3 separate regions of the Homo sapiens genome follow, and all the other regions are reported to be linked to region 3. The links are microRNA targets in miRTarBase. Many come from high-throughput screens and were not tested one by one. Region 3 holds a microRNA gene; each other region holds the end of a gene's coding sequence.
The links. Region 3 holds the annotated microRNA hsa-miR-4524a-3p (UGAGACAGGCUUAUGCUGCUAU, at 1,248-1,269, shown strand). A microRNA usually pairs through its seed, bases 2 to 8, with sites in the 3' UTR of a target mRNA and lowers its output. Matches are read on the target gene's strand: a 7mer-m8 pairs with bases 2 to 8, a 7mer-A1 pairs with bases 2 to 7 and ends in A, and an 8mer does both.

Region 1 (4,063 bases), not on the chromosome of region 3:
GGATTAGGGCGTGAACACCTTTAGGGGTCATTATCCTGCCAATCAAAGCAAGTCTGAGAGGTCAGCGTGAAGCTGTTGTCCAGATACATCTTTTAGCAGGACGTGGGGAAGTGTTGTGTGCTGGGGGCAGCGGGTGCAGCTGCCCCTCTTGGACATCCCAAGAGGCCCCAGGCCTTAGGCCCTGGGACGTCTCTAGGTGGTCATGTCCTCATTGTCCTGTTGACTCTGCCCAGTGGGGAAGGCACCAGCCACGGGGGCCGAGGCCGAGGGGCCACTCTCCCAGGACATAGATGGAGGTGGCAGGACCCCCGGTGTGCGCTGGGAAGCCGGGGCCTGCAAGGGCCCCTCTTGTCCTCTCTGCACCTCCCGCCCTGACAGCTTTCTCTTTTTCTTTTAGAAAATTGATGCTACAAGAACCATTGGAGAAACTGGGATTTGGAGACTTGACTAGTGGAAAATCAGAGGCAAAAAAATGAATTTTGATGAGAAGACCCCTGGGCCGTGTTCAGTGGTCTCTCAGGACGGAGGGCATCATCCTGCCTCTTAGGTTGGCTGAGGCCTGCGTGTGGTGTCCTTAGAAATGGGCTTCGAATAGAAGCTCCAGCCCTGTGGGGGCGTCTCCTGGGTAGGGAGTGGCGTCCCGTTTTCCCTTAGGAGGGTGTTTCTGCATTGAACCCCTGAGTGGGACGGCGTTCCCGGCAAAGCTGGGAGGGAGGCGAGCGTGGGGCAAGACCCTTGTCTTCGAGGCCGGGGCCCTCTTGTATGGGGCGGTTTTATGTTGCAGTCCTCTGATACTTTCTGAGTTCAAAGAGGTAAATGTATAAATTTCAGTCCCTTCTGAACACAGATATCATCAGAAAATTACCATTCCCTAGCAGGATGTTTTCGTGTTTGTATTCGTATATGCCAGTTCATTTCCTTTGAAAAAAAAAAAAAGTGGAACACAAAGTAGGAAGTGAGAACCTTCTGGCTTTGGATGGATTGACTTCTTGATTCTTTCTGGTTTTGCCTGAACACCAAGTAGCTTCATAATCAAAGGGTCATTTTCTGGTTTGTATCAGACCGTATTTATAAAGTTGGGTATTTAATTTCAGTAACTCCTGTATTTTAACAGAAAAAGAACCTGAGTCCATTTGCAGTTAGGCTCGCACCAGCTGTCTTCTGTGCCAGCCAGCTCCGCCCGAGACCCCGGCACGTGTTCGCAGCACAGCCTGGCAGGGGCCCTGAGCGGAGTTCTCAGCCCGTCTGTGCCAAAGTTGCCTGTGGGTCACGGAAACCCGGCCCATGTCCACCCAGTGCGTCAGGCCAGCCGGGGCCCAAACCTGTGGATGGAACGCAGGTGCCTGCACATCTGGGGCCTCAGCCAGACCTGTCTCCTTCCCAGGCACTGTCGGAAAGGGGCTGGCTCCTGTCTGGTCAGTGGAGGATGGTGGCAGGAGACGGGGTGGGGAGGTCCAGGTCACGTCCTCTCTGGCGACCCTGGCAGTGGCTGTCTCCAAGCCCTGGCAGGTGGGGCCACCAATCTGGCCGACCTCAGGCTCTGGGAAACAGGCTGCCCTCGTCCCTCTGCCTGTGGGTGGCTGAGGCTTCTCAGCCCATCTCCAGTTCTCTGCAGCAAAGGCCCTCTGTTTCTGTCCTGCAGTGGTGGCCCTTTCGTGGTTAAACATGTCCCTCCCCTCCTCACAGAACTGAGTACCTATTGCGGCTGGGCCCGCCCAACCCTGTGTCCCTGCACCCATGGGTTCTACCACCTGATTCGGCTGCAGCTGTCACTGTCCCGTGTCTGCTCTCTGTCAGGCCTCTGAGTGCTGCAGACGTATTAACATATCACCGCTAGTTGATGGAAAGTCTTGTTTCTTATTAGAATATTTTGTGTAGGCACAGGGTTGCCCCAGCACTGTCTATAGCAACCCCAGTGTCCTCACAGTGCACGTGAGCCGTGACGCAGCCACCGTGGAGTCGGCGCTGACGCGGTGTGGCCACGTGCCATGAGCTCGCCAACGCAGTGCGGCTATATGGCGTGAGCTTACTGTGAAGTGGAGACAGGCAGGGACACAGGAAACTACAAACGAGAAATCCAGAAGGAGGAGCTGGAACTGATGGGCATAGCCGGCCGCGAGCCCCTCCGAGCACCCCTGGGGGTGGAGTTCTGGCTGTCATGGCAGAGGGTTTCACATGCTCAAAAAGTAAATGAACCAGGATGTGAGGGGAACACAACAGACCATGCCGACGGAGCTCCCGGGCCCAGGCCGGGGCCTCTTCCCATCGCACTCTGACCCGCCGTCGGGAGTGCCCAGGCCCGGGTCGGGCCTGCCTCTCCGCTCGCACCGCACTCTGACCCATCAGGAGTGTGGGGAAGACCGTCGACCAAAGGTGGGAAAGACAGGAAAGATACTGTACTCTAAGTAGTAAATTTGTTTTTTGCGTGGACGATTCTGAAGCTGTATTCTGAGATGGAAAAAACTAGAAATACATCGTGGATGATGAGAGCCAGGTGTATTGAGCTCCTGCTTTTCTAACGTACAAAGGTAACTGGATAGAGAAACGGAGTGATCGCCCTCACCTGGCCAGGGTGTGCTCCGAGACCCCAGCAGGTGCCGAAGCCGCGGATAGTCCCGAATCCTGTCCAGGCGCTGTTTTTTCCTGTACGTACCTGTGATCAAGTCTGAGATGTGACAGCAAAACTGACAGAACTTCGTGCTTCCCTCTTCAAAATGTCACAGATGGGCACTGTGTTCTTACCGGAGATCTTAGCAACCTCGGCATCTGGCTGTTTTTCTTATAGGTCAGGAGTTTCCACCTTTTCCCTTAAAGGAAGCGCTTGGCAGCTTCTCTGGTGTGTCTGAGTCGCCAGCATCACCACTGTCCTGTTCTGGGGCCATTCTTAAGTAAAATAAAAGCTTCTTGGACCCAAGCACCACATCACCGCGATGGCTGGTCTGATCACCGAGATGGCTGCTGAGTGCCTGGCAGGCAGGGTGGCGTGGATGGCCCGAAACGCTGGACGGAGGGAGGGTTGATGTCCCAGCAGGACGGCTGCTCAGAACAGCACAGAATCAAAAACTCATGAATGGTTTATTTCTGGAATTTTCCACTTAGTATTTTTGGACTGTGGCTGACCATGGGTAACTGAAACCGTGTGTAAGGGGGACTGTTGTGAGGGGCTGTGCACAAATGCTTCCCAGCTCTTGAGGGCCTGGACGCAGTGACCCGTGCACTCAGGGTCTTGGCCCTGATACCATTCTGTAACCAAAAGGAACCAGGGCCAGGCCAGAGAAGGTATCAGATGAGCTAGAGAGTGAAGAATTGCTGGGATGAGGAGACTTGTTGAAATAACACGGGGGGATGGGAAGGAGCATACGGTGGCCAGCCTGGGGCAGTGTGAGCGTGAAAATAAACAGGCTGGGCGCAGCGGCTCACGCCTGCAATCCCAGCACTTTAGGAGGCCAAGGTGGGAGGATCACTTGAGGCTAGGAGTTCAAGACCAGCCTGGGCAACATGGGTGAAACCCTGTCTCTACAAAACAAGAAAAGTCAGCCGTGCGTGGTGTCACCCGCCTGTAGTCCCAGATACTCAGGAAGCTGAGGCAGGAGGATCACTTGAGCCAGAGGTTAAGTCTGCAGTGAGCTGTGATTGTACCACTGCTCTCCAGCCTGAGCAACAGAGCCGGACCCTGTCTCACCAAAGGAAAAAAAAAAAAAAAAAAGAAAGAAAATTAATTATTGTAATGGGCTGTAGCCCTCAGAATAAATTGATATCCAGTAGTCTATACAACATAAGTAATTGCGTAAACATGTCAGTGGGGGGAGGGCCAGGTCTGTCTTATTAATTCTAATATAGAAGAAATTTTGGGAACAGGAAACTGCTGTTGCAGAAACCACACTGGTGACAGGTGCAGATTACAACCCTCAGCGGGCCGGGCGCCAGTGGCTCACGCCTATAATCCCAACACTTTGGGAGGCCGAGGCAGGCAGATCACTTGAGGCCAGGAGTTCAAGGCCAGCCTGGCCAACATGGAGAAACCCTGTCTCTACTAAAAATACAAAAATTAGCTGGGGCTGGT
Region 2 (4,063 bases), not on the chromosome of region 3:
GTAGTCCCAGCTACTCAGGTGGCTGAGACGAGAGGCTAGCTTGAGCCCAGGAGGTCCAGGCTGCAGTAAGTCATGTTCACACCACTGCACTCCACAGCCTGGGTTACGGAGCCAGACCCTATACCCCCCAGCCCAAAGAAAAACAAAAACAAAAAAGAAGAATTTCACGATGGCAGCTACAGAGCCCTAAAGTCCAAGCACAGGGCCCTTTGCAGTCACACCTTTGTGCTTCTCACTCAATTTTCTGTTTTTCGTATCGATCCTGAAAGCTCTTGTTCTCTGTAGGTGATTTATATTTGTTTCTATTGTAAATTGATTTTTTTCTCCACAATGTTTGCTAAGTGGTTAGTAATGGTATATAGGAAAATCATTTTGTACAGTTAGCTTTTATCGCTATTTTAGAATTTTCATCTTTCACTAATATAGAGATGAAATTCTATAGTTTCAATATAAATTCTCTTGGGTTTTCTTTTTTTACATTTCTGTTTTTCAAGACAGGGTCTCACTCAGGCTAGCATGCAATGGTGAGATCACAGCTCACTGCCACCTCAAATTCCTGGGCTTAGGTGATCTTCCCACCTTAGCCTCCCCAGTAGCTGGGACTACAGGTACACACCACCATGCCCAGCTAGTGTTTTTTTTTTTTGTAGAGATGTGGGTCTCACTATGTTGCTGACATTGCTCTCAAACTCCTGGCCTCAAGCATTCCTCCTGCCTTGCCTCCAAAAGCGATTACAGGCGTGAGCCACAACACCCAGCCTTCTCTTGGGTTTTCTACATAAAATAACCATCTACAAATAATAGCTATCATTTGTTCTAAGTTCAGACAACAACCCCATGAAGCAGTAATATTATTAACCCCATTTCACAGCTGAGGGATCTGAAACAAGAGATTTGTTCAGGGCCAATGAGCTAATAAGTAGCAGAATAAAATTCAAAACCAAATCCAAGCCTTCCAGCTTCAGAGTTCATGTCCTCACCAACAGACAATAATAGCTCTATATTGATTACATTAACTCCTTTTTTCTCTACTTTTATGTCTGTTTGAAGACTGAGTACCTTGGTAGAACTGCAAGAACAAGGTTGATTGATTGTGGTGACAGCAAATATTCTTGTCTTCTTAATTTTAACTGACAAATGTCTCTAATGTTTCATTTTTAGGTATAGCTTAACCAGAAAACCTCTGTAGCATGAGAATATTAATAATAATGTATATTTTCCTAAGAAAGAACCAAATCAATTTTTGGAAGAGGGACGGATTGTGAAACTTTATTGATAAAGAATTCCGTTCCAAAGGTGTATTCCAGTCACATTTACCCTACATAAAATACCAACATCTTCTTATTGCAAAAACAGAAACTCCGGCCGTTGTATTGATGCTGACTTAAGAGAAATAGAAGCCTCTATATAAGGCAAGAGTCCATACCAGAAGAATTCGACCAATATGAGATACCTCCAAAAAAATCAACTCAATAACCTACTTTATATGTAAGAGACCCAAAAAAGTCAGCTTTTGTGGGAAGTTGATATGCAGTTTATTGAACAAACAGAGTGTACAGTAACTAAACGAACTGTGTATTTCCAAAGGAATTAAGACCGCATATCTGGATTCACACCTAAAAGCACATAGAAAATTAAACCAAAGAAGGGCAAGTTTTGTACTAAAATCACTTGGGCCCAGGTTATTCTATAAGAAGATTCTCACTGGCATTTGATAGTAACTTATCACCTTCTGTGCGAGCTTGGGAACCAGCTGACTCAGTGAACTGCTTCCTGTCTTCAGTGCGTGATGACACAGATGTGTCAAGCTTAATAGATCTTATATGTAAATTTAAGAATAAGAAGTTTTATACCCACCCTGGTTTTATTCCAAAGTTACTGCTCTGCAATTTTGGGCTCCATCCTTAGGAAGATACTGGAAAAGCAAGAGAACCTTTCTCAGCTGCCTGTGTGAAGTGACGTTGTTCTAGAACGGTGCCCTGGGGCCTCATGCACGATTTCACAAGTATAGCTGCATAATCTGTGGATGTCACTGAATGGAAGAAGAATCATCAATGGTATATTTAGGTTATAGAAGGTTCCACTGAGATAAGAAAAGGTTCTACAATGCAGGTAGCTGTCAAGCCTCCTAAATATTTAACTCGTTTTAGTTAACATCACACTGTGCATTGAGTGCAAGATTCTTTGGTTACACCATATTAACCACCAGGAGGATAACTCCTGGTTTGTAAAAGACATCAGTGGTTCTTAACGGAGGGGTGATATGGCCCCAGGAGACATCTGACTATGTCTGGAGAGAATTTTTCACAGCTCTAGCGGGGGTGCTACTGGCACCTAATGGATATGGATGGCAGGAATGCTGCTGAACATTCTACCATGCACAGGGTGGCCCCACAACAAACACCTCTCAGGCCACTAATATGAATAGTCCCGAGGTTGAAATGTCCTGAAAAAGGTTCAGAAAACATGTCTAGACGTTTGCAAAGTCAAATGTATATTATGGAGGCTGCAAGGCGCCCCTTGCATCTCACAGCTGAGGGACCCCGTCACCTCTCACCATCAGAGGCCCATTCATTCCCGCCTTCCATTCCAGGCCCAGTGCCTGCTCCTTCTCACTGAAGAACTCAATAGAGATTTGCTGAATGAATGAGGGAAAAATAAGCTAGAAGCATAGTTTAAAGTCTTCCATCGACTACATTAAACAGCAATTTTATGTGGCCTAAACTTTATTCTGAACCTTAGTGGTGTCATAGTCTCTGACTATATAGAACCTCAAAGTTAAGGCTAACACGTTCTTAAAGATGGAGTGCACATCTTAAGGGGAGTTTGTCTAAACACTTCTCGAGTCATTTTAGTGGGACAAACCAAATAAAATGGTGCTAAAGGCAAACATTCAATATACTTCATTTTAAACTAAAAAATTAACATATAAAATGCCATGCACAGCAGACACCATTCTTTTTTTTACATATTTACAATTTTACATATTTACTTATCAATATAATTTCTATCTTTACAATTATAAAATTATTCCAAACTGTGGAAGAGTGGTACCATTTAATTTTCTTGAACATACACTTTGTAGCATTCATTTGTTTAATCCTTTAAAAGGCAATTATTTACCAAAACCACAGTGAATGCCAGAGGAAGCACATAGGAAAATCATGGAGGGAAAAAAGATTGAGACAAAATTTGCACACAAGCCTTAAATGAATCTGTATCAGTAACTCAAATAAGTAGTATTTTATTATTAACTAAGGTTCCCCTGCTAGGAAAAACGAAACAATCCCCATATACTGTACCTTTAAAAAATGCTGACATTTATAAGCAATTTAGTTACATTCTAGATCCCAATCAGTTGAGTGTAGTAAGGGCTACCTACAATTTAGGCTCAAATAAATACTCTCCACTAAATTGTGATCATCCTGCATAAACTTGAGGTTGCAGTGGTGGAGGAAGTTTATCATTTTCAACGTTTTCAGAGTCAATAGCTGCTAACGGTTGATTCGGAGGCTTAATTTCCAGTGGGTATTTCTCAACGATGTCTTGAACTTCTCTTGCAATTCCATCTGTCCAATCTATGAGGTCTTTTTCCAGTTTCTTGGCTTCATTCATGATCCTTTCTTGTCGTTCATTCAACTGAGACAAGAGATCCAAGTTCTTATACATTTGCTTGACGCCTAAGCAAGCATCAGGAGACCAACTCTCAGCTTCTTGCTTCCTGGGAGAGGTCTGGCCAGACATGTAGCGATCAAAATCCTCCTGACTTAGATTCAAAGACTGGGCGTCTAGCTTCTCAATGAAAGCCACAGCACAGCACTACAAGAAGAGGACGTTAATACAGTCATATTAGGAAAGCTATGCATACTCGAGTCGATTTGTAAAAATCTTTTGATCACAGACCATTTAAAACAGAAGCTAAAGTAAACAAAACAAACTCATGAACTTCTGTGTATTTCAGCCTCAAAAATTACCTACTCCTATCCCCGGTCGTGCTTCCTATACACTCCCAGGAGCTCCAGGGCCGATGTCTGGGTGCAGCCTCCCCAGGTGCACCATGAAG
Region 3 (4,068 bases):
CACACACAACATATTCGAATTGAGTCAAGCCCATTTCCTCTTGTAAGTATTGGATTTACTGAGTCTAAACAATTAAGAATTGGACAAATAGCCTATGTTTTCTCTCTTTAGCTTTTAAATATCCATAAGTGATTGTTAAGCCTGAAAATTATTATTTTATCCTAATATTTTCAATGGGTTATAGCAAACAAAACAGGATTTTTTTTTCCTGCCAAGTTATCAGATAATTATCGTGAGGGAATACTTTTCAATATTTTGTCAGTCTTCTAGGCAATGTTTTGAAAAGTTGTACATACTTGATTGTGGAAGTGTATGAGAAAGAGAAACAGAAAAAAGAAAACACTGACTTGGAAATCAGGAGAACTTGTAACCCTGGTTACATATAAATCTATTATAATTAGTTAGTGGACCCTCCATTGACTAAATGTGTAGTAGACAGACTAATATGAAGGAGAATCTGCCAGTTCTGGGGCTATCTGTTGATTTATTTATTCACCTACTCATAGTTGCTCTATGTTGTGAGGGAGCCTAATACACACAGGCTGCATTGGATTCTGTGTCAGTTGGCTATAGTCTGGCTTCAGACAGTTTGGACACTAGAAAGCAGTGGTGGGAGACAGAAGAGCAGAGGACCCCCTACATTGGGCTCCAGTCACATCACCTCCTTCTGCTGTTCCTGAAGCCCAGAAGCAACAATAGCTTGCTTCTCACTTCACCATCTTTGTGGGATGCTCATCACCCACCTAACCATGTCATAAGGAATTGCACTCTAAGAACTTAACGTAGTCATGGTTTTCTGGTTAGACCCTGCCTGATACCAACAGGGGTGTCTCAAAGCTGACTCCAACTGTTTCACACCAGAAGTCTGAAACATCAAGAAGCAGGATTAGAAATGAAGCCATCCAAAGGGAAGTCCATTTTGTGACAAAAGTGTGAAGCTCAGTTTTGGCTTCACTGAATCAGTGGTGCTGGGAGTATATGCAAGCACAGGTTTTCTGTAAGCCATGGGAACAATGGGGATGAAATATACAGTACTTGAGATGTTCGTGACAGACACATACCTCCGTGAGTTGAGTATGACCGACTGATCACGTAAACAGGTCTGCTGCACAGGATGACTCGAGGGAAGGGGTGTCTGAAGGGAATTCTCCAGAAAGTGGAACCAGAGGAGTAGCAGAAAGAGACAGTGATTACCCTTCCTCTTTGGAACGATAGCAGCATGAACCTGTCTCACTGCAGAATTATTTTGAGACAGGCTTATGCTGCTATCCTTCAAAAGAACACATCCACCCAGCTACTGAGGTTTCCATCTCTGGGTTTGCTCAGAAAGACATGCTGCTCAGGCCTGAATTATGTGTTCATCAAAGGTCCTAACTTCTGAATTATTAGCTTCCTAATGCCATTGTGTTTGCTCAGGATCAAAATGGACTGAAGCCCATAGCTACTCTATTAGAAACCTGTTCCCCACTCCCACTTCCCCATGGCACACACCTTTCCTCCCTCATTCCTATGATGAAAAACAGAATTTATAGACATAGCCCTCAAAGTCTTAAATAAAGTTAAATAATTGTGGAATTATTTTGAGACAGGCTCATGCTGTTATCCTGTAATTATATCCATGAGGTGGTCCTAGATGCTGCTAGAGTGTCCACTTGGCCTAGCCTCAAGTGGATGCTGATTTGGGGGTAGTGATTTAAAGTTCCTTTCCCTGAAGTTAAGACAAGCAGCAACAAGTTTTCTTCTTGGTTCTGTGCTTCAGAACACATCCACCCAGCTACTGAGGTTTCCATCTCTGGGTTTGCTCAGAAAGACGTGCTACTCAGGCCTGAATTATATGTTCATCAGAGGTCCTAACTTCTGAATTATTGTTTTTTTGTTGTGGTAATAATACATGATATAAAATTGACCATTTTAGCTGTTTGCAAGTGTACAGTTGAGTAGTATTAAGTATATTCACATTGTTGTGAAATGCATCTCCAGAACTTTGCCGTCTTGCGGAATTGAAACTCGATGCCAATTAGCTTTCCCCCTCCCCCATCCCCTGGAAATAACCATCCTATTATGTTTCTATGAATATTACTAGTTTAGAAACCTTATATAAGTGGAATATTTGTCTTTTTGTAACTGGTTTATTTCACTTAGCATATTTTCCAGGTTCGTCTATGTTGTAGCATGTGACAGGATTTCCTTCTTTTTTTTTTTTTTTTTTTTTTGAGACCGAGTTTTGTTCTTGTTGCTCAGGCTGCAGTGCAATGGGGCGATCTCTGCTCACTGCAACCTCTGCCTCCCAGATTCAAGCGATTCTCCTGCCTCAGCCTCCCAAGTTGCTGGGATTACAGACATTTACCACCACACCTGGCTGATTTTGTATTTTTAGTAGAGATGGGGTTTCACCATGTTGGTCAGGCTGGTTCAGACTCCTGACCTCAAGTGATCCTTTTTAAGGTTGAATAGTATCCATTGTTTGTATATACATACACATTTTGTTAATCCATTAATTTGGACTTTTGGGTTGCTTCCACTTGTGAGTATTGTTGGTATGAATATGAATGTGAGGGTATCTCTTCGAGAGCTTGCTTTCAATTCTTTTGGAAATATCCCCAGAAGTAGGTCCTAAATGACTTTTGACTTCTCTTTGTTCTTTGAGTTGAAGATCAGAGTCACTTTCCCTCCCACCTTCGTGCCTAGATGGTAATGAGCTACACCTTTACTTTGATTTTTCAACATTTCAAAAAGTGCATTTTTGTGGCTATAATTATTTGTTTCATTTAACAAATATTCACTAGTTTAAGCTACCCTTTATATTTTCAGAGCCACATAGGACTCTGGACTGGGTTGCCGGATGGTTCCTTTTTCTTATTTTTGGTTCTATGTAGCATTTCTCCTTATATCACCATGGGCAGCATCAGTGATTACAAGGTAAGAAAAAGCAGGGAAAAGAAGAAATTTCAGGAATTTCAATATCTGTATTTTGAATGCTATGTGTTCAAAATGTTTTCTTCTGACAAAAACATTTGAATGTATGTTTAATTTAGATATTGTAGCTAAACCTTATTCTTGGCAAGTCAGATAATTTACTTCTAAAAACTCAAAATGCTTTTTATTCCAAAGTCACCTGAAAAGTACAGTGATTTTTCAGAGACTCCAATTAGTCTAAACCTTCAAAGGGAAATATTATAAATCTTTTGACCACATTATTTCCCAGCCACAAGAAGGAAATCATTGATGTTGAAATCAAAGGCCAAATTTAAGACTTGAATTCCTTTTCCACTCTGGAAATTGCAATTTTATGTTATATTTGTATTCGATTATGCCCATTATTCAGACAAAGCAGTTAAATCTATCAACGTTCACCATCCTGAGCCAGAAACTCTCCAAGATGTTTAGGTAAAGGTAAATGTATTATGTCCTCCAGGTCACAAAATAATACTTTTTTTTTTTTTTTTTTGAGATGGAGTCTCACTCTGTTGCCCAGGCTGGAGTGCAATGGTGCAAAATCGGTTCACTGCAAACTCCGCCTCCCGGGTTCAAGCAGTTCTTCTGCCTCAGCCTCCTGAGTAGATGGGATTACAGGCTTGCACCACCATGCCCAACTACTTTTTGTGTTTTTAGTCAAAATGGGCTTTCACCATGTTAGCCAGGATGGCCTCAATCCCCTGACCTTGTGATCCACCCGCCTTGGCCTCCCAAAGTGCTGGGATTACAGGCGTGAGCCACCATGCTGGCCAATACTTATTTTTATAGAGTTTAATGCCTTGAACATTATGAGGTCCACTTTTCATTATTCATGAGCTAAAGTTGTGTTATGAGTCAGGCCTATCACAGTATACATTTTATTTTTGATAGACACCTTGTAAACCATGGAACTGGCTCTATAAGCCTCATGTTACTAAGCAGTATATGCATAATTTTTTTTAATATTAGAAGATTAGATTATATTTATCTTAAAAATTCTTCCAATGTGTTTGTGTTTATTTTAGATTTGCATTTTAATTGAATCTATATACATTTCTTTCTTTCTTTTTTTTTTTAATCAGAAAAATGCTAAGTCCCAGCTATGGATTTCAG

Region 1: the mRNA of COX19 is a reported target of hsa-miR-4524a-3p. Seed matches in the 3' UTR shown: 7mer-m8 at 1,370-1,376, 7mer-m8 at 1,490-1,496, 7mer-m8 at 3,511-3,517, 8mer at 3,674-3,681 and 7mer-m8 at 4,025-4,031.
Region 2: miRTarBase lists RABGEF1 as a target of hsa-miR-4524a-3p. Seed matches in the 3' UTR shown: 7mer-A1 at 3,182-3,188.

Annotation. Positions count from the first base shown.
Region 1 is chr7:965,791-969,853 of GRCh38, reverse strand. COX19 (cytochrome c oxidase assembly factor COX19) reads left to right here. Exons shown (of 3, transcript NM_001031617.3): 3 at 398-4,063. The coding sequence ends at 476. Among named protein-coding and RNA genes, the nearest start is that of COX19, 7.7 kb to the left of the region's middle. RefSeq lists enhancers at 1,783-2,283, 2,284-2,784.
Region 2 is chr7:66,808,642-66,812,704 of GRCh38, reverse strand. It overlaps RABGEF1 (RAB guanine nucleotide exchange factor 1), which reads right to left. Exons shown (of 9, transcript NM_014504.3): 9 at 1,241-3,819. The coding sequence ends at 3,421. It also overlaps the pseudogene GTF2IRD1P1. Among named protein-coding and RNA genes, the nearest start is that of RABGEF1, 70 kb to the right of the region's middle.
Region 3 is chr17:69,096,771-69,100,838 of GRCh38, reverse strand. It overlaps MIR4524A (microRNA 4524a), which reads left to right and starts at 1,207; the gene lies at 1,207-1,275. ABCA6 (ATP binding cassette subfamily A member 6) reads left to right here. Exons shown (of 39, transcript NM_080284.3): 22 at 1-42; 23 at 2,812-2,919; 24 at 4,038-4,068. It overlaps MIR4524B (microRNA 4524b), which reads right to left and starts at 1,297; the gene lies at 1,183-1,297.